Homo sapiens: one gene and its partners. The protein of the gene in region 1 interacts with the protein of each later gene in a biochemical or structural test. Each region holds a gene or a part of one and is shown in the gene's direction. Other genes may lie near its edges.

What was found.
Region 2: the proteins of RAB11FIP1 (region 1) and RAB11A form a complex in vitro, tested with the Homo sapiens proteins (2 studies listed by BioGRID, with this or other methods).
Region 3: of the proteins of RAB11FIP1 (region 1) and PASK, one has a biochemical effect on the other in vitro, tested with the Homo sapiens proteins (one study listed by IntAct).
Region 4: the proteins of RAB11FIP1 (region 1) and RAB4A form a complex in vitro, tested with the Homo sapiens proteins (one study listed by BioGRID).

Annotation. Positions count from the first base shown.
Region 1 is NC_000008.11:37,875,462-37,882,501, reverse strand, and holds part of RAB11FIP1 (rab11 family-interacting protein 1), read left to right. Parts: intron 1-4,950; coding exon 4,951-5,393; intron 5,394-7,040. UniProt on the Homo sapiens protein: A Rab11 effector protein involved in the endosomal recycling process. Also involved in controlling membrane trafficking along the phagocytic pathway and in phagocytosis. Interaction with RAB14 may function in the process of neurite formation.
Region 2 is NC_000015.10:65,886,491-65,892,489, forward strand, and holds the end of RAB11A (ras-related protein Rab-11A), read left to right. Parts: intron 1-1,210; coding exon 1,211-1,350; 3' UTR 1,351-5,499; downstream 5,500-5,999. UniProt on the Homo sapiens protein: The small GTPases Rab are key regulators of intracellular membrane trafficking, from the formation of transport vesicles to their fusion with membranes.
Region 3 is NC_000002.12:241,125,469-241,132,508, reverse strand, and holds part of PASK (PAS domain-containing serine/threonine-protein kinase), read left to right. Parts: intron 1-5,057; coding exon 5,058-6,313; intron 6,314-7,040. UniProt on the Homo sapiens protein: Serine/threonine-protein kinase involved in energy homeostasis and protein translation. Phosphorylates EEF1A1, GYS1, PDX1 and RPS6.
Region 4 is NC_000001.11:229,274,089-229,281,128, forward strand, and holds part of RAB4A (ras-related protein Rab-4A), read left to right. Parts: intron 1-7,040. UniProt on the Homo sapiens protein: The small GTPases Rab are key regulators of intracellular membrane trafficking, from the formation of transport vesicles to their fusion with membranes.

The DNA of each region.
Region 1 (7,040 bases):
TGCCCTACTACAAGGGTTTGTGATAAAGGATTAATTTTCTTAATTACTATATTTTGTGAGAATCAATATTATTAGCTTCAAAGCAAAATTAGGATAGCCTTTGTTCTCCAGATTTGGGGATATTAGAACACTCCCAAGTCTGGGTCTGTTTGGTAAACATTATCCATCTGTTCCCTTACCCATAAACATCTAGAGGCTAGGAATACCTAACTTTCTGGGAATGCAGCGCAGCAAGTCCCAGCCTCATTTTCCTAGCCCTCACTCAAGATGGAGTTGCACTGGTTTGAATGCCTCTGACAGCTGCTTTGGAGGCCTGTCACATTTGTGCATCCCCGTGGAGGGCTAATAGAAGGGCCCGTGTGGAAGAGCTGTGGAGAAACCCCTGCCTGAAGCTCCTGCCCTGGGCGGGGAGGTGAAGCGTGCTGCCCGCCTGCGGTTGGTGAGGTCATCGAAACCTCCTCAGTTAGCGTTCAGCAACTTCTCCTTTTCAGGTGCCTGCAACTGGTATTTACAAAAGCTAAACACCCTTCATCACCAAGGCTACCATTTACCACATGACTGTCAGAAGAGAAAAATATAAATAATCCTCTCAAAATTGAAGTGACAAATATGCAGACAATTCCAGGCCAGGCCCTGGAAAATGTATTGGACAGACACTAGGCTGGCAAGGGTGACATTGTCTATAAAGACCTTGCATTTTCCACTTGAGCCCAGGAGTCCAGGGCTGCAGTGAGCTATGATCGCACCACTGCACTCCAGCCTGGGCAAGAGAGTGAGACCCTGTTGCAAAAAATAAAAAATAAAAAAAGACCTTGCGTCTTGCAACACCCACCACTCCCCGCCTGCCCAGCTCTGGATTGAGGTTATAAAAACCATAAAAGATTTGTCTCCTAAGGGTCCAAAATTATAGCTCATATAATTTTATCCTCTCCTTGCTGTATTTTGTGAATTCATTTTAAGTTCTTCTTGATGACTTTGTATACTGGCCTTTAAGTAATCTCAACGATTTATGACTGATGGCAAGCTATGTTAGTTTCCTTCCTTTCTTCTTTCATCTTTGGACATTTAAATGAGAAGCTTAAATGTTTCTCAAAAAGAATTTAAATTTGAACCCTCTTTTCTCTATGTTACAAAAGATGGCCCATCCAAGATAAATTAGGAGAGAATTTAAAGCAGGAGTCTTGGTGTAGGGGAAAGAATAGGAGAAAGAATAGGGGAAACTGATTTGGAATCCTAGCTGTACCCCATAGTGGTTGCAAGACCTTGTGCCAGTTCTCAGACCTCTGAGCTTCAATTTCTTCATCTATAAAATGGGTATAATATCTACTCCGTGTCGTTCTTGTGAGGCTGAAATGAAGATGTCTCTGTGCGTAGGCAGTGTCAGGTATGCCACAGGTGCTGTTTAGGTGTTAGGTTTCGACTTTCCCCTGTGCCTTTCCTCTAAGTGTAGAAGGAGCCGTAGCAGTGGGGGCAGGGATCTGCCCTGTGAGCGAGCCACCAGCCATGGCTGAAGGTGAAAGAGGAAGTTGTGCTCATTTGGGCAAAACCATCATTTCCTTTAAGTCCACTACCTTCCGCTCTTAAATAGGTCACCGAAAAGAACTTCAGAATGTGAGTTCTCAGTTTGTGAGGGTGACCTGGTGGACAGCTCACTATAGACCAGGTATTTGGAGTTATTTGTCCCATTGTATGGTCTTGCTACAAACTGGGCTCACATTTTTTTTTTTTTTTTTTGAAAGGGATAGGGTCTCACTCTGTTGCGCAGGCTGGAGTGCAGTGGTGCAATCATAGCTCTTACTACAGCCTTGAACTCCTGGGTTCAAGTGATCCTCCTGCCTCAACCTCCCAAGTAGTTGGGACTATTAAGTACGCACCACTGCACCCAGCTAATTAAAAAAAAATATTTTTAGCCACGCTTGGTGGCTTATGCCTGTAATCCCAGCACTTTGGGAGGCCAAGGTGGGTGGATCACTTGAGGTCAGGAGTTTGAGACCAGCCTGTCTAACCATACCCTGTCTCTACTAAAAATACAAAGAATAGCTGGGCATTGTGGCATATACCTGTAGTCCCAGCTACTCGGGAGGCTGAGGCAGGAGAATCACTTGAACCCGGGAGGCGGAGGTTGCAGTGAGCCGAGATCGCGCCATTGCACTCCAGCCTGGGGGACAGAGCGAGACTCTGTCTCAAAAAAACAAAAATTTTTTTTTTGGAGAATGGGATCTTGCCTTGTTGCCTATACTGGTCTCAAACTCCTGGATCCAACCAATCCTCCTCTCTCAGACTCCCAAAGCACTGGGATTACAGGTGTGAGCCACTGTACCCAACCTGGCTCACATTCTTACAGTTCACCAAAGGTATAGGGCTCCTAAATGGAAAATGAATGCCATGAGATCTCCTTTTTCTGAAGCTTGTCTCTCAGTGGAGTTGGACTGGTATAATGTCATTTTTCACATCTTGAAGTGGGTTGCAAATGACCAAGTGTAATTCTTGGATAGTGTTTGAAATGTGACTTTTTCTGATTATTAAGCTAGGGAAGAAGGCTTCCTTTCCAACTAACCATTTTTTTTATTGTGGTAAAATATATGTAACATTAAATTTACCATTTTAACCTGTTTTTTTGAGACAGAGTCTCACTCTGTCACCCAGGCTGGAGTGCAGTAGTGTGATCTTGGCTCACTACAACCTCCCTCTCCCGGGTTCAAGCGATTCTCCTGCCTCAGCCTCTAGAGTAGCTGAAATTACAGGCATGTGGCACAACACCCGGCTATTTTTTGTATTTTTAGTAGAGATGGGGTTTCACCATGTTGGTCAGGCTGGTCACAAACTCCTGACCTCAAGTGATCTGCCCGCCTTGGCCTCCCAAAGTGCTGGGATTACGGGCGTGAGCCACTGCGCCTGGCCCCATTTTAACCATTTTTAAGTGTGCAGTTCAATGTCATTAAGAATATTCACATTGTTGTGTGATCATCACCGCCATCCATCTCCGGAACTTTTTCATTTTCCACAACTGAAGCTCTATACCCATCAAACATTAACTCCTCATTCTCTCCTTCCCCTCCTCCGGCAATCACCATTCTACTTTCTGACTGGATGAATTTGACTAACCCAGGAACCTCACATAAGTGGACTCATATAGTGTTTGTCATTTTCTAACTGACTGATTTCACTTTTTTTTTTGTTTTTTTTGAGATGGAGTCTGGCTCTGTCGCCTAAGCTGGAGTGCTGGAGTGCAGTGGCATGATCTTGGCTCACTGCAACCTCCGCCTCCCGGGTTCAAGCAATTCTCCTGCTTCAACCTCCTGCATAGCTGGGATTACAGGTGCTCGCCATGATGCCCGGCTAATTTTTGTATTTTTAGTAGAGACGGGGTTTCGCCATGTTGGCCAGGCTGGTCTTGAGTTCCTGACCTCAGGTGATCTGCCTGCCTCGGCCTCCCAAAGTACTGGTATCACAGGCGTGAGCCACTGTGCCTAGCCTGATTTCACTCTTTTAAAAAATTCTTTATTTTTATTTATTTATTTTTAGAAACAGAGTCTCACTTTGTCACCCAGACTAGAGTGCAGTGGTGCAATTATAGCTCACTGCAGCCTCGAATTCCTAGGCTCATGTTGAGTAGCTGAGAGTATAGGCGCACACCACCATGCCGGCAAATTTTTTAATTTTTTATGGAGATGGAGTCTCGCAATATTGCCCAGGCTGGTCTTGAACTCCTGGCCTCAAGTGATCCTCCTGCCTCAGGCTCCCAAATCTCTGGGATTACAGGTGTGAGCCACCATGCCCAACCCCCTCCCCACTTTTTTTTTTTTTTTAATTCTGTGTTGTATTATTATTATTTTTTTACTCCCTGGCAGGGACCATTCCTTACTACAAACTTGATTTTCTCTGAGATTTAATTATACATCATTTGCACGCCACCCTTCTTAACTGTTTGTGTATGATCTTTGCTTTTTTTTTTTTTTTTTTTTTTTGAGATGGAGTCTCACTCTGTTGTCCAGGCTGGAGTGCAGTGGTGCGATCTCGGCTCACTGCAACGTCTGCCTCCTGGGTTCAAGTGATTCTCCTGCCACGGTCTCCTGAGTAGCTGGGACCACAGGCGCCTGCCACCACACCCGGCTAATTTTTTATATTTTTAGTAGAGATGGGGTTTCACCATATTGGCCAGGCTGGTCTCGAACTCCTGACCTTGTGATCCACCCACCTCAGCCTCCCAAAGTGCTGGGATTACAGGTGTGAGCCACCGCACCTGCCCTGATCTTTACATTTTTACCCTACTGAAGGAAAACATCACTCATCGGAAGTGATTCCATGGAATATTTTTTTTTCTTTATTTTTAGAATGAGCTCTTTATTGAATCAGGATTTGAGGTGATTATACGCTAAGCACAACACTGGATCCTATCTTTGTCTAGCGCGTGTCTTCTCAAAAATAAAAGTGCAAAATAAAAAACAAAACAAAAGAAATAAAAGTGCAAATTCTGCTCTCAGCCGGGTGCAGTGGCTCACGCCTGTAATCCCAACATTTTGGGAGGCTGAGGCGGGCGGATCATCTGAGGTCAGGAGTTCGAGTCCAGCCTGGCTACCATGGTGAAACCCCATCTCTACTAAAAATACAAAAATTAGCTGGACATGGTCACGCGCTCCTGTAATCTCAGCTACTCAGGAGGCTGAGGCAGGAGAATCACTTGAACCCAGGAGGCAGAGGCTGCAGTGAGCCGAGATGGTGGCATTGCACTCCAGCCTGGGTGACAGAGCAAGACTCTGTGTCAAAAAAAAAAAAAAAAAAAAAAAAAAAAATTCTGCTCTCATCTACCACTTCCCGAAGAGAAAGCATGAGAATGCATGCATTGAAGAGGCTGCTGGTAGCAGAGAGGAGAGGCCAGTTCATGGGGATTGTGAACATTGTTGCAGTTGCTTCCATTCAAAGGTAACTCCTCAGCCTTTCTCCTTTCAGGTGGTATAAGTTGAAATCCAAACCAGGAAAGAAGGACAAGGAGCGAGGAGAAATTGAGGTTGACATCCAGTTTATGAGAAACAACATGACTGCCAGCATGTTTGACCTTTCTATGAAAGACAAGTCTCGGAATCCATTTGGAAAGCTGAAGGACAAGATCAAGGGGAAGAATAAGGACAGTGGGTCAGACACCGCCTCCGCCATCATCCCTAGCACGACACCTTCGGTCGACAGTGATGATGAGTCTGTGGTTAAAGACAAGAAAAAGAAATCAAAGATCAAGACCTTACTTTCCAAGTCAAATTTGCAGAAGACGCCTCTTTCCCAGTCCATGTCTGTCCTGCCGACTTCAAAGCCAGAAAAAGTGCTGCTTCGTCCCGGAGACTTTCAGTCCCAGTGGGATGAAGATGACAATGAGGATGAGTCCTCCTCGGCCTCGGATGGTGAGTTTCTGCCTCTTCCTGCTTGACCTCTCTTCTTCCTCTTACCATGCTTCGTTCTGAGAGAGAAGAAACAGACAAATCTCAAGAGAAAGAGTTTAATTCAATTCCTCAATTACAAAATCATGGTGGTGGGGATGATGATAGCGGTGGTTAAGATGCCCTCTCTAAGGCTAGGCGTGGTGGCTCACGCCTGTAATCCCAGCACTTTGGGAGGCTGAGGCAGGCAGATTGCTTGAGCCCAGGAGTTTGAGACCAGCCTGGGCAACATGGTGAAACCCTGTCTCTACAAAAAATATAAAAATTAGCCAGATGTGATGACATACTCCTGTAGTCCCAGCTACTCAGGAGGCTAGGCTGGGAGGATTGCTTGAGCTCAGGAAGTAGAGGCTGCAGTAAGCTGTGATCGTGCCACTGCACTCCAGCCTGGGTGACAGAGTGAGACTCTGTCTCAAAAAAAAAAAAATGCCCTCTCTGTTTCTTTTTTTAAAATATTTTTTGTTTGTTTGTTTTAGAGACAGGGTCTTGCTCTATTGCCCACGCTGGAGTGCAGTGGCGCGATCATAGCTTACGGCAGCCTCCAACTCCTGGGCTCAAGGAATCCTCTCACCTTGGCCTTCTGAGGAGCTGGGACTACAGGTGTGCATCATCACACCTGATTAATTAAAAAAAATTTTTTTTTTAGAGATGAGGTCTCACTATGTTGCCCAGGCTGGTCTGAAACTCCTGGCTTCAAGTGATCCTCCTGCCTCAGCCTCTCAAAGGGCTCTTATGACCGGTGTGAACCATTGCCCATGGCTGAGATGCCCTCTCTATTTCTAAGCCCTCTGGTTTCTTTCCTTCTTTCTTCCTTCCTTCCTTCCTTCCTTCCTTCCTTCCTTCCTTCCTTCCTTCCTTTCTTTCTTTTCTTTTCTTTTGAGATGGAGTCTTGCTCTGTCACCCAGGCTGGAGTGCAATGGTGCGATCTTGGCTCTTTGCAACTTCCGCCTCCTGGGTTTAAGCAATTCTCCTTCCTCAGTCTCCCGAATAGCTGGGATTCCAGGTCCGTGCCACCACACCCGGTGAATTTTTGTATTTTTAGTAGAGTTGGGGTTTCACCATGTTGACCAGGCTGGTTTTGAACTCCTGACCTCAAGTGATCCACCTGCCTTGGCCTCCCAAAGTGCTGGGATTATACCCTCTGGTTTCTAAGAATGTATAAATTCCTTTTCCAGAGTTCCTGGCTCTATAAATGATGTCCACTAGTACAAGCTTTTAGAGCTAACAGAATGAGTGTCTTCCAAGTTTTTTTTTTCTTTTTTTTAAGGGTAAAACCATGGAACCTTATGGTAATTCTGATATTTCATTAATTCATCAGGTAGTTATTGAGTTCCTGTGATGTGCTCAACCCTCGTGGGATATAGCCTTATCAGAAGCCAAGGAATCTGCTTCCTTTAGCTCTGAGTTAATTATGTATTTTGAACTTCAATTTCAATGTCTAAATCCCTCCCATTGGCCGGATTCTGCTACTCTACCAAGAGTGCTGCCCTTTTCATTGGTTTAACCCAGAGTTTCTCAACCTCAGCACTGTGGACAGTTTAGACTAGACAGGCCTTTGTCGTGGGGGGCTGTGCTATACGTTGTAAGATGTTCAGTATCATCCTTGTCCTC
Region 2 (5,999 bases), on another chromosome or scaffold:
AGGCTAATTGTGTTAATTTGACACATTTTTAGAATTATCTTGCTTTTTGAGAGTAGTGTTTTTGGAGGGACAACTGGGAGAGTAAACAAAAATAAGGTACATTCTCTGTTCTTAAGGACTTTATAATCTAGTCACAGGGAACAACTTTTAGGCAGTGCAGTATAAGACCAAACGTGTTACATACAGATACTTATTGTGGAGGAATTTAGTGACATTCATGCGGTTATTTATTTATCACAACACATGTTATATGTTGCAGTACAGCAGTAAGACAGACACAGTTTTGATCCTTACAGAGTTTAACACTTAGTAAAAGAGGCAGACACTAAATTATTTTTGATAAGTGTCATGAAATAAAAATAGAGTTTACATATAACATCTTAAGTTGCCTATTTTGTATCATTCTTTAATTACAATTTAAGTTTTGTTCAGGAGGTCACTGATAAACACATTATCTTTTTTTCCCTTCCAAGAATCGTTTGGGATTTTAGCATGTTTGTTAAGATGTACTCTGCCGAATGCGTCTGATAGTGCAAATTTATTTATTTTTTGTGTGGTACAATGTCATTGTGTGTAGGCAATTTTTGTTTGTTTGTTTGTTTTTTGGGGTAAAGGTAGACTGAAAATACTCTTATGGTTTACTTTGAATCTAAGTCCATAAACAATGTAATGCTATTGGCTTACCTCTTTTTTTTTTTTTTGAGACCGAGTCTTGCTCTGTTGTCTAGGCTGGAGTGCAGTGGCACGATCTCATCTCACGACAACCTCCGCCTCCCGGGTTCAAGTGATTCTCCTGCCTCAGCCTCCCGAGTAGCTGGGATTACAGGCACCCACCATCATGCTTGGCTAATTTTTGTATTTTTGTAGAGACAGGGTTTCACCATGTTGGTCAGGCTGGTCTTGAACTCCTGACCTCAGGTGATCTGCCTGGCCTGGTTTACCTCTTTAAACAAAGATTTATTTGACTGGTGAACCTTTCCCTCTGACATGGAAAAACCTTTGTTTCTTTTCTTACCCAAAGGGCAATTGTTAAAATAAAGGGTTGAATCTAATCAGTGGCTGTTTGAAAATAAAACTTTAAATTTATGTATTCTCTGTTCAGTTTCCTTAGGGACTTTGATGCAAATATATCTCCTACCTTTATGTATCTTTTATCCTAACTATGATAGGTTTATTCACACTAAGTATTGTGGTTTCTTTTTTCCTTCAGAGATTTACCGCATTGTTTCTCAGAAGCAAATGTCAGACAGACGCGAAAATGACATGTCTCCAAGCAACAATGTGGTTCCTATTCATGTTCCACCAACCACTGAAAACAAGCCAAAGGTGCAGTGCTGTCAGAACATCTAAGGCATTTCTCTTCTCCCCTAGAAGGCTGTGTATAGTCCATTTCCCAGGTCTGAGATTTAAATATATTTGTAATTCTTGTGTCACTTTTGTGTTTTATTACTTCATACTTATGAATTTTTCCATGTCCTAAGTCTTTTGATTTTAGCTTTATAAAATCATCCACTTGTCCCGAATGACTGCAGCTTTTTTTCATGCTATGGCTTCACTAGCCTTAGTTTAATAAACTGAATGTTTGGATTCCTCAGTTATTGTTTACTTTTCATCATGGAAGCCTGTCACTGTATGTAGGACATAATAGAACTTGATCACTTGAAGCTCAGACCTATTGGTCTTGATCAAATCAAACTAAGAAGACCTTAGAAATAAGCTACCATTTTGCCACAGAGCAGCTTATAGGTAATACACTCTTCTCTCAGTGCAGTGTACATTTCCACAAATCTAAGAATTGCCCTATAAACATAGCAGGATTTTGAGAGCTTGAAAATTTTCCATTATTCTGGACATGAATTTCTAAAATGCCTTAATAGGTTTATGTAGTTGAGTAAATTTTGTTTTTTAATTTTTGTAAGCATCAAAGTTGATTAGAGAGGGGGGCACTTTTTCTGGAGAATTCTCTTAGTAAACACAAAAGATTGTTACGGTTTCATTAGTAGTATGGTTGTGGGGCCATAAGTTAAACAGTGCTGCCTGGTAGGCTGGGAACTGAAGAGACTTGTGGTATTCCATCTCGGGTGCCTCTGTTGGCAATGATCAGGCAGCCCAAAAGATTTAAATGATCTATAATAATTTCCAAGCGGTAGATTATGTGGCATTTTATTGCTCAGGCAATAATTGGTTTAATGCTGGTAGTGTCAAATTTTGAAGTGTTAATTTTGTCTTAGAACCTTCCAGTAAGTGAAATACAACCTAGTTTTATCACCATATCCACCAGCAGGCATGGATAATTATTTTAACAATGCTAATATTTGAGTTTTGCAGTATATTATAGAATATAGTCCAGTTAAATCTTTGGTTTCAGTATGTCTGAAGAGTACAGTGAGAGGTTAATTTCTGCTCAAGTGGTACCACTTAAAGGCATGTATTCTTTTAGTATGTAAAATGAAATAGTACCTTGAGTTTAAATAGAATGCATTTAGGCATTGTAGAGATCTGAAATAGTTTTCTTCCACTACATTGTTGAAATCAATGAAGCAATTAGTTTCTCATTCAGAAATGTGCACACTAATATTTAGTTTTGCTTTCTCGTGGATAATATTAAGCACTTACTCTGCAGTTTCCTGGAAGTTGTGTCAACTGCAGTGATACTATTCAGGATGGTGGGAAATCCCCAAAAATATGTATGTGTGGGCTTGCTTAGATTACTATATTTCATAGTTAATCTTTTGTCTCTTGCGGTGCTCATGATGTGTGGGGCACACGGAAGGCATTGCTGTAGTCAGTCATTTTGGTTTTCTTCTATAGCCATTTTATTATTTTAGTGTATTAGTTATGAAGATAATATTATCTATTTGTAAATTGCTACTTTGTATTTTATGCATGCTCTGTAATTTGATTTTTTTTTAGTTATTGATTTGGATTATATTCACATTCTAATAAACAGTTATAGGGGGATTATTTCTTATGCTGTCAGATTACATTTTTCCTTTGAGTGCTTTGGGTGCAGCCGTGGAATCCTGATGTAAAAGCATAGGTTCTTGCATTACTGAGTAAACATTGAATTGGGAGCATCAGTGTGTGAATTCAGCTTTGATTTTAGAACTGCAGTTCAATTATGCTTTCCTTGGAAAAAGTATGTCCAAAAACATTAGGAAAGTAGTGTGTATTTTCATATATAACAGTGTCACCAGACCCAGGAAAAGAAACCATCTCTATTTTATTGAAAGTTGGTGGTAGATTTTTTACAAAGTAAGGAGAAAAGAGAAAAACTAAATAGTGAATTGAAAATGAATAAAGTAAACTTAGAATTTTTACCCAAGTGTAGACTTAAATGTTGCTTTGAGTATGGCTGGATCTTGGGAGAATTCCAGGAAATATTAGGTATTAGAAAATGACTTTGATTGCATTTCAGCAGGTGTCTTTATTCTGAGTAGTATCTTAGGAGACAAACTGTCTCAAGCAAGAAACAATAAATTTTTAAATATTATGACAGTTCAGGGCTTAAGGCAGTTTAGAAGTATTTTGCTACTTGACCTTGATTTTCAGTTATTTTAACTTTGAATTTTTTTTTTTTTTTTTGAGACGGAGTCTTGCTCTGTTGCCCAGGCTGGAGTACAATGGCACCATCTCAGCTCACTGCAAGCTCCACCTCCAGGGTTCATGCCATTCTCCTGCCTCAGCCTCCCGAGTAGCTGGGATTATAGGCGCCAGCCACCACGACTGGCTAATTTTTTGTATTTTTAGTAGAGACGGGGTTTCACCATGTTAGCCAGGGTGGTCTCGATCTCCTGACCTGGTGATACACCCACCTCGGCCTCCCAAAGTGCTGGGATTAAAGGCGTGAGCCACCGTGCCTGGCCTTGAATTTTTTTTTAACCTGTTATATAGTCTCCTGAATAGTTAGCCATGGTGCCTTGATTTAATCTTATGTCATTGTTCTCAAATGCCATGATTTCTCTTTAATAGTAGTTGTCATTATGTAAGGGTAAGTTATTGCCCATTTAATTGTAATTATAAGAAGAGGTGCCAGCTAGTGACCTTACATCAGTGATCTTTTAAGTTCTGAAGGGTTCTGCAGAAAAGTTACACTTCTTGAGTTTGGGTTGCCCATCAGAGCTGGTCACATTTCTTTGATCATTGAAAAAATGAATATCTTAATTTTTGTCTTTGCTGACTGGTATTTATAAAATACAAATGCTTTTAGTGGGTTGAGCTGTTGTGATAATCTCTTCCATCTACCTTAGAGAAGAAGCTGTACTATTTAGACAGTTTTGGCCAACACTAGAAGCAAAAGAATTCAAAGGCTGGGTGGATATTTAAGAACTTATTCTAACCTGTCAGGTTTCAATTTGTGGGGCTTGGTTTAACAGAGGAAAAAAATATAAATTGATTTTCTGATGTCTCACAAATATCACATACCTGGAAAAAAATTAAAACAAAAAATGAATTTTGTAAAAGGTTATGTATGACTTCCATTTGCTCTGTAAAAAAATGAACAAAGATTGTGAAAGGATCCTCTTCCACCACATCATTTAATGGGTTAGCGGAACAGATAGGGAGCTATGACACTAGCACCAAAGAGAGATTTTTCTTCTGGTTGGGTGGTGCTGGTGCCACGCCCCTTTCTGGGATTTGACAAGTCTTTCCCACTCACCTATACAATATGCCAAATCAACTGGAGTTGTCATTCTAATGTTTTAAAGAATGATTGGGTTCCCCCAAACTGTAGGAGGTCGATGGTAACAATAAAGTGATACAAAATGCTTATGTCATTATAATTTATGTAAGGGAGACCATTAGGCTGAGAATCAATATGATTGAGGTTATCTATTCTCCTGAAAAGTGAATTGGAGAATAAAGAAAGAATATTTGAAAGGATGTTGTGTACTAGGCAATATACTAGCATGTATTAGAAAATACGGTAAACTGTGGGTTAGAAGAGTGAAAGTAGCTGGTATGATAGAGCACTGGACTGAGTAACGAAGAGATTCTAGTCATGGCTCTTGTGGTCATTTCATTTTTGAGCCTCACATTCTTCCAATTAATGAGGGTACCAGATTAAATAAACTCTGGGGATTCATCCCAATTCGAACTCTGTAATTCTCTGAATGAACTCTCTCTTCAATTAAAGCCAAATTATTAACATTTTAACTCAAGTTTAAATTTAATAGAGAAGTCAAAATGAGGTATGCACTTTGTGGAATGTTTTTGGTCTTATCACAATAACCTGATTAAAATGGTGCCTTTATTTCCATGTTTACTCCTTTAAATAAGATGAAAGCTTTCAGAACATTTATTTGCAAAATGACTGTCAATATCAACAATATGCATCAAAGTACCATATATGCTAAGGGAGAGGAGCACTTGATGGGCTGCTATGTTAACTGTAAATTGAGAACTGCTTGTTTTATGGCTTTTGCTGTTAAAAAAAAACTGCTGGCTTTTAATATGTACTTTAAAATATACTCATGTCTGGGAGAGAACTTTTAAAAACATTTTGTGTTTAATTTTTAAAAAATTATTTCTTTAATAGGAATCTACAAGAAGGTAGATCAGTCCACAGGCTAGCTATCCAGTAGAACCAGTGATTAAATCCAAGTGTACAGGTTTATGTGTGCATGTACATGATACACATGGTATTTTGGGGTTGTTGATCTAGTGATCTAATTATTAATAGTCAAAACATTATTTAAATTCAATTCTTTGACATTTATTAATTATAGGATAGTTCCTGACACGGGTGTGAGCACAAAATGTTATGTATATTGGCTAACTATGTTACCAGTACCAGTGATGGTAGTGAGAATTAGCAGCCAACAGGATTCCTTTACTATGTTTGAGTCAGTGGAACTTAACCTTGCTCCAAACCACAAAATCTCAGACCTTTTTAACTCTCATCCCAATGAATAATGTACTGTTTTTAGCACCTGTCCCCCTGTTGACAACCTCTAATCTCTCAGCATACCATTTTCTCAGGTATTTCTAGGGAAGTG
Region 3 (7,040 bases), on another chromosome or scaffold:
CACCCAGGCTGGAGTGCAGTGGTGCGATCTCAGCTCATTGCTCATTGCATTGCAAGCTCCGCCTCCCGGGTTCACACCATTCTCCTGCCTCAGCCTCCCGAGTAGCTGGGGACTACAGGCGCCCGCCACCACGCCCGGTTACTTTTTTGTATTTTTTTTAGTTTCACCATGTTGGCCAGGATGGTCTCGATTTCCTGACTTTGTTATCCACCCGCCTTGGCCTCCCAAAGTGCTGGGATTAATTTTATCATTTTCAAAGTCATATGAAGCTGTTCTCTTTGCACATTTTAAAATATTCTATTTAGAGTAAAGAAAGTTTATATTAGAGAATTAGGAACATTTGGAAAAGTAGAAATAAAAACTTGTTCTATTCTCATAGTCGTATTGTACATAGCACGTGTGTGTGTATTTTTAACCCATTTTCTTCTTCGGAATCTTTTTTTTTTTTTTTTTTTTGAGATGGAGTCTCACTCAGCTGCCCAGGCTAGAGTGCAGTGGCGTGATCTTGGTTCACTGTAACTTCTGCCCCCTGGTTCAAGTGATTCTCCTGCCTCAGCCTCCTGAGTAGCTGAGACTACAGGCACCTGCCACCACGCCCGGCTAATTTTTGTATTTTTACTAGAGGCGGGGTTTCACTATGTTGGCCAGACTGGTCTCGATCCCTTGACCTCATGGTCCACCCGCCTTGGCCTCCCAAAGTCCTGGGATTACAGGTGTGAGCCACCATACCTGACCCAGAATCTTTTCTTATGCACAGCATGCAGTAAAGGTGCCCAAACTGTAGGTGCCCAGGTGGCCCAGGACCCTTTCTTGGCTGCCTGCAGACCCTGGGTCCCTTCCTGCACTGTGCCCCCTACACCCTGCTGCCCTGGGTCAGGGCAGAGGTTAGACTGCCTGCCGTTGAGCCTGACGCATGCATTTCCTTCTGTCTGCCTTCTGCTTATTGCTGTGTCTGTGATATTTATCCACATAGTTGTGTTTTCTAGTCTTGAAATTATTTAAAAAATATGTAATAGATACATATAAAGTATGTATGTATGTTTAAAAATATGTAATGCATGGGCCAGGCGCGGTGGATCACGCCTATAATCCCAGCACTTTGGGAGGCTGAAGTGGGTGGATCATGAGGTCGGCAGATGGAGACCATCCTGGCTAACACGGTGCAACCCCGTCTCTACTAAAAATACAAAAAATTAGCCAGGCATGGTGGCGGGCGCCTGTAGTCCCAGCTACTCGGGAGGCTGAGGCAGGAGAATGGTGTGAACCTGGGAGGCGGAGCTTGCAGTGAGCCTAGATCGCGCCACTGCACTCCAGCCTGGGCGACAGAGTGAGACTCCGTCTCAAAAAAAAAAAAAAAATGTAATACATGCATATGTGTTTTTTTAATTATAGAAGAATAATGGTAAAAGCAATAGTTCCCCTGGCCGTCTTCCAATCCCCCTCCTCCAATCCTACTCTTTCCCCCAGGGGACCGCAGTCAGCAGTTAGAGCCTTCCAGGCCTTCTTTCTTGTGCATTTAACTATAGTTGTATATTATACTTCTATGTGTGCATGTGCATATGTGTGCTCACATGTAACTGCTTCTGTTCCCTGAGCACGGCTGGGATTATACCATACACAGTGTCCTAAATGTGTGTGTATGTGTACGCACACACATGTCCTGCAGATCTTCCTCTACAGGCCTCCTCGGAACCGAAGCCTCCTGGATGGCACCCTAGCTCATGGGCCACTTTCCCACTGGCCGATGTGCCGGTGCTTTCTCTTGTTTGCTTAGCCTCCCTGATTTTCCCTTTGCCACTGTGGGTCCGCGTTGAGTGGCGTGAGAGGGTAGCTGTTGGCTCTATTTGCTCTACTTCCACTGCGAGTGGAACAGAGCAGGCGCTCAACACGTGAGTTTTCAATATTACTATGAATAATATTGCTGTGCGCACCTCTCCAGAGGTGCCACCAAGCTGAAGTGGGGCGGCCGTGGTTGAGGGCCCAAGTCTGACCCGTGGGTGCTCAACAGCACTAGCGGCCGGGCCCCCTTGCCAGTGCTCCCGTTGTCTGGGACATCTTGGTGGACAGAGGCCACGTGGCCCGTTGCTATCCTCAGGACCTTGGACACAACTCATCTTCCAGGACTTGGTGGTACCAAGGGAGTTGCCCAAGATCAGCCAATTCCTAGTCTTTCTATTGCATTGGACGTTTCTGGATGTCACAGTTCTGAGAGTTTGATTAGCATCCACTGCACAGCTAGTGCAGTTATGACTATAGAGATTTATCCATTCATTCCCCGCTCAGTCATTCACTCACTCGTTCGCTTATTCAACAAATAAGCATTACAGAAGACTTGGGGTGTGTCCCTAAGAATTGTAGTCTGGTCAGGACAATAAGCTGAAACAGTAAGACAGAACAGGGTTAGGAAGCATGAAGGAAGGAGGTGAGCTGTACGGAGTGCTTTTGTGTTTTAGGGACTACGTTGGGTGCTTCCTCGTAAGTTGTCTCCTTTAGTTCTCCTGGTAATCCTGGGAGTGTAGTCTGATTTTTAGCAAATGGATGCTGAAGCTGAGTGAATTGTTACACTGGGCATCAGGTCCTCGAAGAGACCCCAGGTGATGTGCTCAGACAGCAGGTGGGGGTCTCGGGTCTCCACGGGGGTCAGGTCCTGGTGCTTCCCCACTGGAGGACCTACGGTCCCTGGGGCTGCCCTGGGTTGAGGTCCCAGCAGCTCAAGGCCTGTGTGCAGTCGGCAGATCACATCCTTCATGCCCTGACTGCATGCTGGCCAGAACTGAGTGGCGTGGCGATGCCTGGCTGCCAGGGCAGCTGGAGGATGTCCTCATGTTTCCTGAGTTGCTGTCATGCTGAAAGTCAGAGATCCACAGTTTCACAATCTCTTAGCCAAAATTATGAAATCCAAAAAGCCCCCAACACTGAAATATTTTTCTTAGAATTGATGCTAAAAGCATTGGACGGTCAAATTGGCCCTAAGCACGTGAGAAGCTGTTTGTGGTTTTCCCTTGACCTCTGCAGTTTGAGTGTTCAGAGGCCTTGCTGCAGACACAGGGCAGTGGATGCCCGTGAAGCCCTCTCCCCAGCCTGCTGGGGTCTCCCTAGCAAGTGGTCATATGACTTTTCTGAAATCCCCAAACACATCTGGCCCAAGGGTTTTGATGGAAGGGCCGTGGACCCAGGTGACTGTGGAGAGAACGGGTACTGAGGCTGCAGCAGCCCGCTAAGGCCCCAAGAGCATGGGTGAAGATGCAGTGCTGCCCAGGGGCCTCAGCTTTGTGTCTGGACTGTGCCCCAGAAGTTGCCCAGACTCTTTGGCAAGGGGCTTTGTGAGACCCTCGTGGTGTGCATTCGCCTCCTGTCTTACCTGATCCTGCAGGAGGATGTGCAGTTTCCTAGCATTTGCATGGGGTTTGTCTCAAGCATGGGATGGATGGAGAGCGGGAGAGGGAGGTACAGGGGAGAGAGAGATGGGAGACATGGAGGGAGAGAGGCGGGAGACATGGAGGGAGAGAGGCAGGCAGACGCAGACCCTCAGCCTCCCCCTCAGTTCCCCTCAGAAAACTGCTTTTCCTCAGAACTTGGCTCACAATCCCTTTCTCTGTGGAACCCACCCTTGGGTTGTATCCTTCCTCTTCCGTCTTTTTTTTTTTGAGATGGTCTTGGCCATTGCCCAGGCTGGAGTGCAGTGGTGCGATCACAGCTCACTGCAGCCTAGACTCCTGTGCTCAAGCGAGGTTCCCGCTTCAGCCTCCCAAGTAGCTGAGACTACAGGTGTGTGTCACCACGCTGGCTAATTTTTAAATGTTTTGTAGAGACGAGGTCTCACTATGTTGCCCAGGCTGGTCTCGAACTCCTGGGCTCAGCCTCCCACAGTGCTGGGATTACAGGTGTGGGCCACTGTGCCCGATCCTGTCCTCTTTCTGAGCCTCTGGTATACCTTTATTAGGTTGCTGATGTTAACCTGTGTGTCTGTCCCCGAGTGAGGTGGTGCGGTCACATTCTGTGCATCTGGTGCCCAGTGTCAGTCTGTCATGTGGAGGCCAGTGGCTGGGCTGACAGGAGGCCTGGGTCCCTTGGCTCTGTGATCATCCTGTCTGGACTGTGGCAGCCTCCTCATGGGTCACCATGTGCTGAATGCTGGAGGACATTGTGTGCCACCTCTTAGGAGCCGCCCTCACCAGCCTCCTCTCTCTTTTTCGGCCCGTGTCCCCTTCTTTTTTTGTTTGTGTTTGAGACGGAGTCTCACTCTGTCACCCATCTCACCAGTGAGCTGGTACAATCTCAGCTCACTGCAACCTCTGCCTCCCAGGCTCAAACCATTCTCCTGCCTCAGCCTCCAAGTAGCTGGGATTATAGGTGCCTGCCACCTCACCGGGCTAATTTTTGTATTTTTAGTAGAGACAGGACTTTGCCATGTTGGCCAGTCTGGTCTCGAACCTCCTGACCTCAAGTGATCTGCCCACCTCGGCCTCCCAAAGTGCTGGGATTACAGGCGTGAGCCACCACGCCCGGCCCCCTGGCCCCTGGCCCCTTCTGTGTGGGCCCCATCTGAGAGCCATTTCCCAAATCTGAGAGCCATTTCCCTAGTCGGCTGTGAAATCGGATGGTGTTTGTAGTCAATCAGTTGTTTTTTTACTGTTGTGGAGTTTACCAGGGACTCTCCAATCTCTCTCTCGTTTCCTCTCACACCTCCTCAAGGCAGCAGCACGGACTTCCCCTTGCAGGTGGGGCCGAGGCTAGGCTGCACGGCTGACGGGGGGTTTGGGGGCCCTGAGATGAAGCGAGAGCGCTGACCAAAGCATTGGCAAGTTCTCCTGTACTTTACTGTTGGGCTTTTGGTAGCATTCTCTGCAAAATCATTTCTAAATGTGGACTTAATTTGGAGAAATTTGAGACTAAGTGCTTTATTTTTTAACTTGGTCACAAAATTTGGTCTTTTTCTTGTTATAAATTGGTGGCATTAAATGCTTTGTACTTAGTTCTAATGGAGAATCGGTGCAATCTCTCCTTTTGACTCATCTGTGGCCCTACATGATGGTCACCCATGTCATTATCCCCAGGGTGGACAATGTCCCAGAAGGAAGCCTGCCAGTGCACGGTGAACAGGCGCTGCCCAAGGACCAGCAAATCACTGCCTTGGGGAGAGAGGAACCTGTGGCAATAGAGAGCCCCGGACAGGATCTTCTGGGAGAAAGCAGGTCTGAACCAGTGGATGTGAAGCCATTTGCTTCCTGCGAAGATTCTGAAGCTCCAGTCCCAGCTGAGGATGGGGGCAGTGATGCTGGCATGTGTGGCCTGTGTCAGAAGGCCCAGCTAGAGCGGATGGGAGTCAGTGGTCCCAGCGGTTCAGACCTTTGGGCTGGGGCTGCCGTGGCCAAGCCCCAGGCCAAGGGTCAGCTGGCGGGGGGCAGCCTCCTGATGCACTGCCCTTGCTATGGGAGTGAATGGGGCTTGTGGTGGCGAAGCCAGGACTTGGCCCCCAGCCCCTCTGGGATGGCAGGCCTCTCGTTTGGGACACCTACTCTAGATGAGCCGTGGCTGGGAGTGGAAAACGACCGAGAAGAGCTGCAGACCTGCTTGATTAAGGAGCAGCTGTCCCAGTTGAGCCTTGCAGGAGCCCTGGATGTCCCCCACGCCGAACTCGTTCCGACAGAGTGCCAGGCTGTCACCGCTCCTGTGTCGTCCTGCGATCTGGGAGGCAGAGACCTGTGCGGTGGCTGCACGGGCAGCTCCTCAGCCTGCTATGCCTTGGCCACGGACCTCCCTGGGGGCCTGGAAGCAGTGGAGGCCCAGGAGGTTGATGTGAATTCGTTTTCCTGGAACCTCAAGGAACTCTTTTTCAGTGACCAGACAGACCAAACGTCATCAAATTGTTCCTGTGCTACGTCTGAACTCAGAGAGACACCCTCTTCCTTGGCAGTGGGCTCCGATCCAGATGTAGGCAGTCTCCAGGAACAGGGGTCGTGTGTCCTGGATGACAGGGAGCTGTTACTACTGACCGGCACCTGTGTTGACCTTGGCCAAGGCCGACGGTTCCGGGAGAGCTGTGTGGGACATGATCCAACAGAACCGCTTGAGGTTTGTTTGGTGTCCTCTGAGCATTATGCAGCAAGCGACAGAGAAAGCCCAGGACACGTTCCTTCCACGTTGGATGCTGGCCCTGAGGACACGTGCCCATCAGCAGAGGAGCCAAGGCTGAACGTCCAGGTCACCTCCACGCCCGTGATCGTGATGCGCGGGGCTGCTGGCCTGCAGCGGGAGATCCAGGAGGGTGCCTACTCCGGGAGCTGCTACCATCGAGATGGCTTACGGCTGAGTATGTCCCGGGCCCCATAGGAAGAAGTGTGGTGCTCCCAGAGCACAGTGCAGTGGGGGTGCAGGGCCTTCCTTGTTCTGGGGTCTGATGGGGTTTCACCCTGGAATAGTGTTAGCAGAAATCATGTTTTCAAGGAGAATGCATATCATCCACCCCTAGAAAATTAAGATTACGAATGTGTGTGCCTGGGGAGGGTGGCGCCCAAGGTCCCAGGCCACCTGCCCCATGCCCGTCAGTTCCAGCTGTGCCCCCTGACTCAGGCCATACACTTAGAGAGCCGCTCCTCCCAGCAGCCTGGGGAGATCCCGTCGGGAGCAGGAGAAGCGTGGGGGTGTCACGCTAGAGTCTGTCTCTCCACCTCCCACCAGCCCCCACCTCAGTGGTCACACAGACAGGCCGAGAGGGATGTGAGCGTGGTGAGATGCTCACGTGTTCTTCTTCCGTGCTTTTGGTGTTTAGGCTGCCCTGATCTCTGAAAAACCTGCCCTTCTGTGAGGGTCATGTGATCGGGCCCCTCTGCTTGCCCCTTTGAGATTGATTCTGTTTTACTTTCTTTTTTATTTTCATTTCTTTTTTTTTTTTTTTTCTTTTTTTTTGAGACAGAGTCTCTCTCTGTTGCCCAGGCTGGAGTGCAGTAGCGCGATCTCAGCTTACTGCAAGCTCCGCCTCCCGGGTTCATGCCATTCTCCTGCCTCAGCCTCCCTAGTAGCTGGGACTACAGGCACCC
Region 4 (7,040 bases), on another chromosome or scaffold:
GTCACCCATGCTGGAGTGCAGTGACACAATCACGGCTCACTGCCACCTCCATCTCCCCATCTCAAGTGATCCTCCCACTTCAGCCTCCTGAGTAGCTGGGACCACAGGTGCATGCCACCACACCTGGCTAATTTTTTTTTTTTTTTTAATTTTTTTTGTAGAGACGAGGTCTCTGTCTGTTGCTCAGTCTCATCCCGAACTCCTGGGCTCAAGTGATCCTCGTGCCTCCACCTCCCAAAATGTTGAGATCACAGGCATGAGCCACTGTGCCCTGCTGAAATGTACTGTTTATGAGCTACCTCTCATTAATGTGTTCATTTAATATGCTTTTTAACATATTAAAACAGTATTTCACCTTCCATAGACTGAGTAGTGTTGAACATTTTTGTTGCTTTGAAGTCACCACATGAATACTGTACTTTATGTAATATCGTGAAACAAATTGAAATCTTAGGTTTTGGATGAAACCCTTAGTCTGAATATGAAACAGTTCTACCAAATGCCATTAGATACACTACATTCTTAAAGCCCTGGCCAGTTAGTATGGCTTGGGACTTCCCAAGGAACTCTGCTTCAGCCATCTGAGACCTGGGAGATTACAAATTGGCTGAAAGTAATTTTGATGCTAAGCAGCGATGTTCAGAAAGGAGCTGAAAAGTATATGTAGTGGGAAAATGCCAGGAATTTCTTTTGAAATTAAGTGCTGGGGCAGTTCGAGAGTGAGGAAAAATCTAATACAAAATCTCTACATATATTAGAGTTTATGCCGTCTACAATGGGAATAACAAATGAAACAGAAGAATACAATTCAAATTGCTGGTTCTATGCTCATTTTTATTAAAATATACTCTTAATGTTTTTATTTTGTGCTTCATTTTGAAAACAGCACAGTATTACAGTATTTGCCATATAATTTTGAGAATTATCAGAATATTTTCCTTAAAAATGTATCATTTTAGGCTGTTCAGGTTGAATTGTGTTCCCCAAAATATCTGTTTAAGTCCTAACCCCTAGTACCTGTGAATGTGACCGCATTTGGAAATAAGGTCTTTGCAGATGTAATCAAGTTAAGATGAGGTCATCGTACTGAATTATGGTGAGCCCTAATTCAGTGACTGGTGTCATTATAAGATGAGGGAAACTTAGACACAAATGCATTCAGAGAGAAAGAGATGTGAGGATGGAGGCCAAGATTGGAGGGATGCATCTACCAGCCAAGGAGTGCCAAGGGGTGGCTGGCAACCACCAGAAGCTAGAGAGAGGCAAGGAGGGATCCTTCCCTTGAGCCTTCAGAGAGACCTTGACCCTGTCAGCACTCTGAATTTGAATGCCCGGCCTCCAGAACTGTGAGACAATAAACTTCTGTTGTTTTAAGCTTCCCAGTTTGTGGTTCTTTGTGATGGCAGCCCTAAGAAACTAAAATATAGGCTTTGCTCATCAAAATACGATTCATGAGAAATTTAGGATGACAAGGCAAGATGAAGTGAAGAAGATATCCTTGGTAAAGGAAATAGCATTTCTTTTCCTTTTTTTTTTTTTTTTTTTTCTTTGAGATAGAGTCTCTCACTGTTGCCCAGGCTGGAGTGCAGTGGCACAATCTCGGCTCACTGCAACCTCCACCTCCCGGGTTCAAGCGATTCTCCTGCCTCAGCCTCCCAAGTAACTGGGACTACAGGCGCCCGCCACCACACCTAGCTAATTTTTTTTTTGTATTTTTAGTAGAGGCGGGGTTTCACTATGTTGGTCAGGCTGGCCTCCAAACTCCTGACCTCATGATCCCGCCCTTCTCAGCCTCCCAGAGTGCTGGGTTTACAGGCGTGAGCCACCGTGCCCGTGTATAAATAGCATTTCAAAGTCACCTGGTTCCAATAAAGTATGAAATAACTTGCTCTTAGGGAAATCACCCCAATTGCCCTTTACCTTAATTTCATGAAAGATGGAACAGGTAAACATGTCAACAAAGGAATCCTGTAACACCAAAACAAAGGACATTTCTTCAAGTTGAATAAATATATGATTATACATGTTTGTCATTTTCTTTTTCTCATTCACTGAAAGCTGGTGAACATTTCAAGTACCAAAGTTTGGGAAACATTGCACCAGTGGCTTATCAAACTAATGTGCACACGAGTCCCCTGGTGTATTAAAATGTAGATCCTGACTTGGAGGGTGAGGGAGATCGGCATCTGACCAGCTCCCGGGCCGTGCAGGTGCTGTTGGTCCAGGGAGGCATGTAATGACTCCATGCTCGAGAACTTTGAAAGCATGGTTTTTTGAAAAAACAAAATATTCTTTCTCATGGTCATTTGAACTGTAAAGTATTCCAATCCATGCCTGTGACTTTACTGCTGATGCTCTGATGACTGTAACATCTATATTTCTAGTCACATCCTTCACTCAAACTACAGATCTTTTTTTCAGCTACCTAACTACACCTGGGTGGCCTACAGGCATCTGAATGCAGTACGTCCCAAACCCAACAAATTATTCACGCCTATGCCCCATCTTCTATTTTTCCTGTGTTTGCCTAGAAGATAAAGTTAGAGTCCATTTTTAATTCTTCCCCATCCTTACCTCCTGGATCTATTGGGTTTCAGAGTCTTTTGAGCTGACTTCTTAACATGGTTTAAGTTACTGTTTACCCTGAAAGATGCAAAGGAAAGTTAAATTAGGGCCAGTTTACATGATTAAAAGGTAAGCAAATTGGGTTTCATTCCAAAGTTCTTCGTCGTAGTGACTTGAGCAGCTGTGCTGACTATCTTACAGCTTGCCACACAGCATCTGCACCACTGTCCCTAGGCAGCTTCCACAGCACCTGGAACCTGGGTTCATGAGGATACAAGAGCCTCCTGGGCCAGGATGGGAGTAGTTTTCCACTTTAGAAGAACTATATATCTATATATAATATAGATATATATAATATATATAGTTTATATATAAATTATTTACAATTTATATATAATTATTTATAATTTATATATAATTATTTATATTTATATAAATTATTATTATATCAGTGGAAAGTAACAAAGAGTTGGCCTGCTAAGTAACTGCCTTCCTCAAATCAGCCTCCTCAGTGTGTGTGATCCCAACGAATGGGTCAGGAAAATCAAAGACCCAATCACGAACCTGGAGCAATTGTTGGGAGTCTGTGCTGCAAATGTTAAATTTACAAGCGTCAGGATTCCGCTGTGCCGACAACGTTTAATTCAGGCTTAGGTAAACCGCGGCTCCTACAGGCACACTGCAGAGTCCCATGATTAGCTTTTGCTGCCTGTTCCACCTCCTTTACTTCTTATTCTTCCCGCTCCTCTACAGGTCGTGTGCTCTTCTGCTGCCCAAACCTTCCACCTCTCCTAACCAGCATTTCATCAAGGTTCCCACTGTTCAATTCCTCCCTGACCATTGTACCAAAACTTTTTGTCCTTTAAAGTACATGTCATCTTATATTCTGTCCTCTGCCAGCTCCTCGTTGCTGTTATCTGATGACCCTGGGGATAGTCCTTTTTCAACAAGGTCATCTATCATATGGTCTTGCTCTTTGCTCTAACTCCTGACTGATCCTAGGTCACTGCATTGTCCTTGCAGAGGTCAATCAACAACTCCGCTCCACAGTTCCTTGACTTTAGTCAAGATGAAGTCAGGTCTCTTCTACCACCTCTTCAGGTACTCACTTCCCTGACTGCTCCCTGGACTTTGTCACCTATCCCATTCTGACCACTCCAACTCCATCCAGTCTTCACTGTAAGAGCTTCAGGCTGCTGGTCCATCTCCTCCCTTTCTTCTTTTTTTCTGAGACAGAGTCTCACTCTGTTGCCCAGTCTGGAGTGCAGTGGCATTATCTCAGCTCACTGCAACCTCCACCTCCTAGGTTCAAGTGATTCTCGTGCCTCAGCCTCCTGAGTCGCTGGGATTACAAGTGTGCGCCACCACGCCTGGCTCATTTTTGTATTTTTAGTAGAGACGGGGTTTCACCATGTTGGCCAGGCTGGTCTCGATCTCCTAACCTCAAGTGATCCACCCACCTTGGCCTCCCAAAATGCTGGGATTACAGGCATGATCCACCATGCCTGGCCCCTTTCTTCTTTTCAGGCAATGAGCTGCTCTCTCTTCAGATAAGACTCATGGCTTTTCCTTCCACCTCGTCCTTCTTTTTCTTTCAACTACACACACTTTGCACAGCTCCAGCCCTGGCTACCCAGCCATCTGCCTTGCCTGCTGTGCAGACAGAGCTCCTTTTAGATTGAGATCATTGCAGATGTATGGTCTCTGCTTCCAGCTGGGTACTCAGTAATACTTAGCAATCATTTTTCTTATCCTGGCCACCTCTCTCTCCACATCAGCTATTTTAAACCTTCACACATCTCCTCAAGCCCATTCTCTCACTCCTAGTAGATGACCACCAGTAGATGTAAGGAAAAGATGCCATGTCTGCAAACTTGCTTACCTCATCCTTAACCCTTTCCATGTTGTCTCAGAAGGTCTCTGTTGTTTAAAACTAACCCCAGCCTTCTACTTTGGACCCCATCTCTAAAGCTTCAAGTCCCCACTTCACCCATCATGTCTGTTCCCCTCCTTTTCCCTTTCCACTGGTAGCTTCCTGACTTTGCGCCTTCCTCCTTTAACCACCTCTGTCTCTCCTTTCCCTCACAGCTAAACTGCTTATAAGAGCTGTCAGTACTTTTTGTCAACAGTTTTACTTCCTTCATTCTTCAACTGACTGTAATTAGGATTTTGCCCCCACCTGAAATGATGTTGGTTTCACCAGAGATGCTGATGATCAGTCAGTGGACACTTGGCAGCCTTTATCTTACTTAGCTTCTCTTTTCATATTCGGCCCTTATAAGAACTGCTTCCCCAAATCTCCACTGTGTTGGCTTACAGGTATTTTCAACTTAATCTCTGAATTGGCAACTTATTATTTTACCTTAAAGCCTATTCCTTCTCAGAACCTTCAGCATCTCTTATCTCAGTTTTCGTAATCACAGACCCTAAGCCTTTAATTCCTAAAGAAGGAAACCTTCTTTAAATGACTCCATTCTACCCAAATTCTAGTGCTATACCACAGCACTTAGCCTTTTCTGCCAGGAAGTAGGACACATGAAATGCATCATACAGTCAGAGGCCATACATCCGTGCTTCCTTTCTGACATTTGGAAATCTTGAAAGCAAGACGATTGCTTGGGGAAAAAACTAGGAAGGCAGAGGTCATCGTGTCTGCTGAATATGGCTTAATTTTCTTGAACACTCAAGGTCATCATTGACTATTGACTGCTGCACAGAATGTGCTGTGCTATTACGGCCACTTTCTAGCTCATCCCCTGCTGTCCCCATCTGCCTTTGTGCCTGTAGTTCACAGTCCTACTTTAGTATATACCTTTGATCTACTGCAGTTTGGGGCATTAGGTAATAGAGGCTGCTTGAAGTGAATGTAAAACAAGTCAGTCAATTCCAAATGAGGTGTCTCCTGTAGAGTTAATCTTTTTTGGCTTTATGTTTGCTATTTCAGTGGCTAGGAGACCTTTTTTTCCTGGTCTTTATTTTGTCTGTGTTCCTGAATGGCTGACATTTGCTCAAGATTGAATTCTAATTATTTGATACCTTTCCTATTATCTCATTTGACTTTTCTCATACGGAAAGTTAAAAGTACATTAGTAGGATGTATCTGTTTTAGATTTTCTGTTTTGGGGTGTGGTCTTTCCCTTCAATCTTAATTCATTCTGGAGAAAACCCTTATCAGGTGAATATAATTATAAACTGAGTGAGAAAAATTTATTGTGAATTTGAGCCCTCAAGTTAACGTTCACTATAATAAACACCGAATCTAATTTAAGTGGGCACAATTATTTAACCAGTTGACACTTAGTTATATAACCTACATAGGCATTTTGCCTTCATTAATTACTCTGTAATATGGCTATTCACCTGTTCCTGTTAAGCCTTTCTGTAGTTGTTAAGCACTATACACTTAACATATAAAACATACACATGGTATGCTATATATATGTCATCCACTGTTAAGCAAGGAAAAAGAAAAAACCACAGATTAAAAATACAAAATAAACCCATAAAACTAGTACAGATTCTGCCATATTCTGATATGGAGTCATGATGAGTGAGATCATCATTGCTGCAAACCAGCAAACATTGAACACTCTGAGAGAACATGATGCATTCCTGCCAGAATGATTTCTGTGAGATCCAGGTAATTCAGCACTAACTGAAACTCCTCATGAAGTTGGATTCTCATCATCTACCAAGGAATAATTCATTATCTCCTTATAGTTTTATCTGCGTTATCTAAATACATGTATCACCACACAGAAAAAGAATTGATGGACAGCTCAGCTGCTTATCTGCTGCTCCTTCCTTGTGGTATTGTTTCCTTCTTGAATCCTTTGCTAGTTCTTCCAGTTTGGGGACTGTGCATAGTAAACGTACAGAGTCATTGTCTGATAATATCACGTATTTTTTTTTCCGTTAAGCTTTCTATTTTGAGATCATTGCAGATTCATATAGTTTTAAGAAAAAATACGGAGTTCTCATGCACCTTTTTCCTAGTTTTCTCCAATGGGAAAAACTTACAAAACTGTTGCAGAATATCACAACTAGGATATTGATGTTGACACAGATACAGGACACTTCCGTCACCACAAGATCTCTCCTGTTGCCCTTTTATAGGCACAGACTTCCTTCCTATCACCACATTTTCCTTAGCCTTTGGCAACCACTATTCTCCATTTCTATGATTTTGTCATTTTAAGAATATTATATAAATGGAATCTTGCAGTTGCAATTTTTTCGGATTGACTTTTTCACTCAGTATAATTCTCTGGAGATACATTCCAGGTTATTGCATGTATTGACAGTTTAATCCTTGTTATTTCCGAGTAGCATTTCTTGTTATGAGTGTACCAAAGATTGTCTAACAATTTACCTGTTAAAGAACATCTGGGTTGTTTCCAATTTTGGGCTATACCAATACAACTGCCATAAACATTCATATACAGGGTTTTATATGACTCAAAGTCTTCATTTCT